Homo sapiens: one gene and its partner. The protein of the gene in region 2 interacts with the protein of the main gene of each other region in a biochemical or structural test. Each region holds a gene or a part of one and is shown on either strand. Other genes may lie near its edges. The genes, in order: RAD51 and MND1.

Region 1 (3,822 bases), on a different chromosome or scaffold from region 2:
TTCTGGCCGGGTGCGGTGGCTCACACCTGTAATCCCAGCACTTTGGGAAGTCAAGGCAGGTGGATCACCTGAGGTCAGGAGTCTGAGACCAGCCTGGCCAATATGGTGAAACCCCATCTCTACTAAAAATACAAAAAATTAGCTGGGTGTGGTGGTGTGCGCCTGTAATCCCAGCTACTAGGAAGGCTGAGGTGGGAGAGTTGCTTGAACCCGGGAGGCAGAGGTTGCAGTGACCTGAGATCACGCCACCGCACTCTAGCCTGGGTGACAAGAGCGAGACTCCATCTGAAGAAAAAAAAAAAAAAGAATGCCTTTTTCTACTAAGGAAGTCATTCTTTTGAACCACACATACAACTTTGGGACGTGGGGTTATAGAAGAGACATTCTTCGGCCAAACTAACCCTGGCAATCACTACATTGATAAGTGTAGCCATAGTCTCTCTTATCTAAACCAGTAACCTACCTCTCAGCCACTGCCAGCAGCCGTTCTGGCCTAAAGGTACCCTCAGTGTCAATGTACATGGCCTTTCCTTCACCTCCACCCCGGTCAATGGGAAGCTATAGAGAACAAAAACAACAGTAGAAATGAACATTGTATTTCTGATACAGCTGACCAAGCTCCTCATGACATCTTTATAATTCCTCCAAGGCAAAGGGAAAAAAACATTTAAAAATGACAGTGGTAGGAAGGAGGCATTCCCTTCTGATATTAATAGAAATACAGCTAGAAAAATATGTAAAGCTGATTGTGTCTCAGTACATACAGCTAGTCCTGTCAGAACTGGACTGCTTAGAAATATAGCCCAAAGTAGGTAATAAAATTCTTTTCTTCTTTTTTTTTTTTTTCTTGCGATAGTCTCACTGTTGCCCAGGCTGGAGTGCAGTGGCGTTATCTCGGTTCACTGCAACCTCCACCTCCTGGGTTCAAGCAACTCTCCTGCCTCAGCCTCCTGAGTTGTTGAGATTAAAGGTCCATGCCACCACGCCCAGCTAATTTTTGTATTTTTAGTAGAAACAGGGTTTCACCAAGTTGGCTAGGCTGGTCTTGAACTCCTGACCTCAGGTGATCTGCCTGCCTTGGCCTCCCAAAGTGTTGGGATTATAGGCACGAGCCACTGCACCTGGCCTTTTTTTGTTTTGGAGACAGGGTCTCACTCCGCCGCCCAGGCTGGAGTGCAGTGGTGCAATCTTGGCTCACTGCAACCTCTGCCTTCCGGGCTCTGGAGATCCTCCCATCTCACCTCCCAAATAGCTGAGACCATAGGTGTGCACCACCACACCCGATTAAATTTTTTTATAGATAGGGTTTTGCCACATTGCCCAGGCTGGTCTTGAACTCCTGGACTCAAGTGATCTGCCCGCCTCGGCCTCTTAAAGTGCTGGGATTACAGGCGTGAGCCACCACACCTGGCCAGTAATAAAATTCTAGAACTGCATACCAACACAAGACTGATCAATTCAAAAGTACAGAAACTTGGAAGACCATTTACCTTAGCTTTAATCAATAATGGGCCATGATCCAAAGCCCAGTTAATTTTAGCATGTCTATATCAAACTTATACTTCACTTTATTGAGCAGTTCATTCTTTAGGGGTACTAAAGGGACTAGTCAATGCCCTCGGAGTGTCTATAGCAAATTTCGAGTGTGAGCAAGAAAGAAGAAAAAAACATATTTACTCCAATAGTATAAACAAGATGTTTAAAATGAACAATTGGAGAAAACAGAAAAATAAGTAGAAAGAATTTTAAAGAGAAAACAAAAAGGAAAGAAAAGAGAAGTAAATGAAATGCCATGAAAACTGTCTTATGAGCCACTCAAGGAAATCTCTGCTTTAGACTACCCATTCCATACCAGATACCTTTGAATTTTTCTACAAAGTTTAAGTGAATGATGCTAAAGGGTAATTTCTACTCTAGAAATCTACTTTGGAGTCATAATTCCCATTTAAATTATGAGGAAAATCCTTTAGAACATTTTATGTTAAAGGCCTAGGAGAACCAAATTTTTTCTTTCTTTTTTTTCTGAGACGGAGTTTCGCTCTTGTTGCCCAGGCTGGAGTGCAATGGCATGATCTTGCCTCACCACAACCTCTGCCTCCCGGGTTCAAGGGATTCTCCTCCCTCAGCCTCCCAAGTAGCTGGGATTTCAGGCATGCACCACCACGCCCGGCTAATTTTGCATTTTTTAGTAAAAATGGGGTTTCTCCACGTTGGTCAGGCTGGTCTTTAACTCCTGACCTAAGGTGATTCACCCACCTTGGCCTCCCAAAGTGCTGGGAGGCGTGAGCCACTGCACCCAGCCCAAATTTTCTTTCTTATCTTTGAGAATTTTTTTTTGAAATTACAAAACAACTATATGCTTATATTAAAAATCTAAACAATATAAAAGTAGAGGGCCGGAGGCCAGGCGCAGTGGCTAACGCCTGTAATCCCAGCACTTTGGGAGGCCGAAGCAGGTGGATCACCTGAGGTCAGGAGACCGAGACCATCCTGGCTAACATGGTAAAACCTTGTCTCTACTAAAAATACAAAAAATTAGCCGGGCGTGGTGGCGGCCACCTGTAGTCCCAACTACTTGGGAGGCTGAGGCAGGAGAATGGCGTGAACCTGGGAGGCAGAGCTTGCAGTGAGCCGAGATCGTGCCACTACACTCCAGCCTGGGTGACAGAGCGAGATTCCATCTCAAAAAAAAAAAAAAAAAAAAAGAAGTAGAGAGGCCAGGCATGGGGGCTCACACCTGTAATCCCAGCGAGTGGATCACCTGAGGTCAGGAGTTCGAGACCAGCCTGGCCAAAATGGTGAAACCCTGTCTCTACTAAAAATACAAAAATTAGTGGGGCGTGGTGGTGCACACCTGTAATCCCAGCTACTCGGGAGGCTGGGGCACAAGAATCACTTGAACCTGGGAGGCGGAGGGTGCAGTGAGCGATATCATGCCACTGCACTCCAGTTTGGGTGACAGAGTGAGACTTTGTCTAAAAAAAAAAAGAGGAAGTGGCGGAGAAAAAACTGAAAGCTCTTCACCACTCTCCATCTCCCAGAAATAATTTCCCAGATTATTTTCTATGCATTTTCATATACTTCTTTTATATAAGTGGTTCTTCCACTTACTATGTGACTGAGAATATTGTTTCCTTTTCTGTAAAATGTAAATAAAACCGACCTTATGGGATTGTTTTAAAAACTAAATAAAATAATTCATGTAAAGCGTTTAGCACGGTACACTCTGAAGACATGATTTTCCCAACCTTTAGGGCACTGACTTTAGTGTATACAGTTACGGAAGGCTTTGTTAATTTGGAAGGGAAAAATTACGTTACTATTTGGCAGATAAAATCTCTCACATCATGGGAATCCATGGAAGGAGCAAAGGACACATATACAACAAAAGAGGGTCATGCCTAAAGAAAGACTTGGAACCAGTGGCCAAGAGGACAGAGAGCAGAATCTGCCTCAGTTTCTTGGAGAGGAGGAAATATTAACACTCTGGGGACTAAGTCCCCAGGAAATAAGATGAACGAAGTTCTCCTTTCTCCTACCTCCAGGTAATATTAAGTGCTAACATGACAGGGGATTCTTTTCCAATTGAATAGACTTCCTTGGCAAAGGAAAGGCCACAGATGATTGGGAATAGGTAGGTAGACTGACAACAGGATAGTGGACAAGCTCCCAGGGTAAGATCATGGGGATGGATTGCATGCTCTGTTCTCCAGCTTATTTGGCCCTTTCTACCTTGCCCTCCCAGTGCCATCATAGCCATCTTCTGTTACTGGATTGGGATACCATCAGGTTAGCTCTTCTTAATAACTGCTTAGGAGCATA
Region 2 (3,822 bases):
CCCCGCAAGCTCAAGTCATTCCCCCACCTCAGCTTCCCAAATAGCTGGGACTACAGGCACATGTCACTACACCCAGCTAGTTTACTTTTACTTTTATTTTTTATAGAGATGGTGTCTCGCTATATTGCCCAGCTGGTCTCGAACTCCTGGCCTCAAGCAGTTCTCTCCCCTTGGCCTCCCAAAGTTCTGGGATTACAGGTGTGATTCACCATGTTTGGCCTTTATCATTTTTCATCACCATCAGACTAGGTTATCTTTTAATAGTTATTTATGCAACCATGTAAAGATGGATCCTGGAGAACTTGTAATGGAGTCTATTAGAGATATATTAATTTTTTACTTGGGAATGAGAGAGTAAGAATCCTTCCTTCCTGGCTTTGTGCATTTTAAAAAATTTATTAAAGATTATCATCTTTTTTGCAGGCACAGTGGCTCATGCCTGTAATCCCAGCACTTTGGGAGGCCAAGGCAGGAAGATAGCTTTAGGCTAGGAGTTTGAGATTAGCCTGGGCAAGAGAGTGAGACCCTATCTCTACAAACAATTTAAAATTAGCTGGTCATGCTGGCATGCGCTTTATTCAAGTTTTCTTCCTCCAGTTTTATTACCTTTCTACTTGAGAGGCTGAGATGGGAGGATTCCTTGCACCCAGTAGTTCAAGGCTGTAGTGAGCTATGGTCGTGCCACTATACTCCAGCCTGGGCAACCGAGTGAGACCCTGTTTCTTGAAAAAGGATTAACATCTAGCAAGATAAAATTCATTATGTCTGGCATACAAGCAAAGACTACCAGGCCTGGAGAGAAGTGGGAAAACATTATCTATAATGAGCAGAATACTCCATCAGTCAAAATTGACCCAGAAATTAGGATCAGAAGACCAGAACATTTAAAAAGTTATTATAACTGTATTCCATATGTTCAAAAAGTTAAGTGGAAATAGAGAAGATATAAAAAAGACCCAGGTCAAACTTTTGAACATGAAAACTACAATGTCTGACATGAAAAATACACTATGGTAAATTACCAGCAGATTAAATTTTGCAGAAGAAAGAATTGATGTTAGTTGAAGATATAGCAATAGAAATATCCAAAATGAAACACAGAAAATAAAGAATTTAAAAAATATGAAAATGGGGCCAGGCGCAGTGGCTCACGCCTGTAATTCCAGCACTTTGGGAGGCCAAGGTGAGTGGATCACTTGAGCCCAGGAGTTCGAGACCAGCCTGGACAGCATATGGAGTCCTTGACTCCCATATAAATAAAATAAAAATTTTAAAAATATGAAAATGGCATCTGAGCCTTAAGACAACTTCAAGGGACCTAATATATGTGTAATTACAGTCCCAAATGGAGTATGTTTTGGTGGGAGGAGAGGTTGCTGAGCCAGAAAAATATCTAAAGAAATAAAAGCTAAAGTTTTTCAAATTTGATGAAAAGTATAAACCCACAAATCCAAGAAATTTAAATATTTAAGTAGTAGATGCCAGTGATCCCCTTATCACTAACTTTAGAGAACTTCTTAAGACTTTAACCTCTACTCACCCCAAATCTCCATTCCTCAATGAAATTATTGTTTTTAAAGTGCACTTTTTGATAGGGGTTTCATGGGATTTCAGCTATCATGTTAACGCAGAACAGATTATACTGGATTAAAGGCTTATGAGTTTCACAAATTGATTTTAATAGGATTTGGTTCTTAGTAGCATGGCTATTGCCCCCCATATTATATTGCTCAGGCTTATCTCTAAGTCTGTCATGATTTATTCAGAGAACAATTTGGTGACTGTAGCCATAACCATTTGTTCATATGGGGCATGGCTATGTATTTTCTTATTTCTCACTAACACCCATGAGAAATACATATATTTAATTATGCCAGTTGAATTATTGATATCATTAAGCAAGTATTTAGAAGACTAATTGCTTTGGAGGCAGAGGCAGGCGGATCACTAGGGGTCAGGAGTTTGAGACCAGCCTGGCCAACTTGGTGAAATGCTGTTTCTATTAAAAATACAACAATTAGCCAGGCATGGTGACACACACCTGTAATCCCAGCTACTCTGGACGCTGAGGCAGGAGAATCGCTTGAACTGGGGAGGCGAAGGCTGCAATGAGCCAACATCATGCACTGCACTCCATCCTGGGTGACAGAGCGAAACAGTCTCAAAACAACAACAACAAACATTAATTGCAATATCAAAGAAGTGATATTTAAAAGCAACAATTCTTTAAACAATTTTTTAATTTAGCTATTCTGACCATTATTCAAATGTGACCAGATAAAACATGTTAGTAGAAATTAAATTCCCACAAAAATACTTGAAAATATCTTAGAGGTACTTAAGTAATTTTCTTAGAAATAAATGCCAGGATGACAGTAAAAAGGTGGAGTAAGGACTTCTGAAACTTTGCCCTTTCAGAAAACTTGCAAAAATTGTTGTAGTCAACTTTTTCAGAACTCTGGAAATTAACCAAAGGCTTACAGGAGCCTACTGAGGAAAATTAGCAGACTCTGAGTAAGAATAATGAGCTTTGTGGTATTGAATTTGCCTATACTCATTTCCCAGTCTCACCGCAGCAGTGACCTTGAAGGATAACAACCCTGCATTCCTACTGTCTAGAGGAACAAAATGCCCCTGGAACTCTGTAAGAGCCTTGATCCCAAAGAATTGTCATTATTTACATGTTTGGTGGTTCCCTGGAGGACACCAATAGGAAAAACTGTCTTTATTTGATCTGGCCTCGGGTATGCCCAATGCTAAAATCCTCTCTGTGGGGAGTGTTTGTCTATAACAATTATAAACAATAATTTTAACTTCTCAGTTAACCATTGTTGATGAATAACAGTTGAGGCAAACAGTAGACTAATCAAAAAGCTTAAAAGGGCCAGATGCAGTGGTTTATGCTTGTAATCCTAACACTTTGGGAAGATTGCTTGAGCCCAAGAGTTCAAAACCAGTCTGAAGAAAATGGCAAAACTCCATCTATGTAAAAAATTTAAAAATTAGGCATGGTGGCATGTGCCTGTAGTACTAGCTACTCAGGAGGCTGAGGTGGGAGGATCACTTGAGCCGAGGAGATCAAGACTGCAGTGAGCCATGATCGTGCCACTCTGCTCCAGCTTGGGTGACAGAGTGAGAACCTTCTAAAAAAAAAAGGAGAAACTAAATGATATGTTCATGAGAGCCTTGAAGAGCAACATATTCCTGGAAATATAGAAGGCCTACATGCATGCTTAGGGTTGTTCACATTCTCAGTGAAGACCTGGGACAGTCCCCACATCTAGCTGACCTTGATACTCTGTGCAAGCAAGAAGCAAAGACTAAGTCAGAGTTATAAACTGCCTTGCTGAGAACGCATGTCGCAGCACATGCAAACCCTCTTAGCAAAGACGGCTGAGCCCTTTGGAAAAGAGAACCTCTTCATAGAGGTTTAGTCCAAGTGTTTAAGGAAATCTCTGTTCAATTAATAGCTTGACCACTAAGCTAACCAAGTAGAGACTTAAGTGGCCACACTTAAGAACACGGACTTTACAGATTGAGTTCAGGAAAGTTACTAAACAAATTGTAACAACTCTACGAGCAACAATCCTGGGGAGGGGGAAGAATCTGCTTTCTAGGGTTGCTATGAGACAGAATCTTGCTCTGTAACCCAAGCTGGAGTGCAGTGGCACAATCTTGGCTCACTACAACCTCTGCTTCCCGGCCGGGTTCAAGTGATTCTCGTGCCTCAGCCTCCCAAGTAGCTGGGATTACAGTGCCTTATATTATTTTTTAAATTAATTATTACTTTTTTTTTTGAGACACTCTCACTCTGTCACCTCA

Evidence for each region.
Region 1: the proteins of MND1 (region 2) and RAD51 interact in far-western blotting, tested with the Homo sapiens proteins (one study listed by BioGRID).

What each region holds. Positions count from the first base shown.
Region 1 is NC_000015.10:40,715,541-40,719,362, reverse strand, and holds part of RAD51 (DNA repair protein RAD51 homolog 1), read right to left. Parts: intron 559-3,822; coding exon 464-558; intron 1-463.
Region 2 is NC_000004.12:153,399,989-153,403,810, forward strand, and holds part of MND1 (meiotic nuclear division protein 1 homolog), read left to right. Parts: intron 1-3,822. UniProt on the Homo sapiens protein: Required for proper homologous chromosome pairing and efficient cross-over and intragenic recombination during meiosis.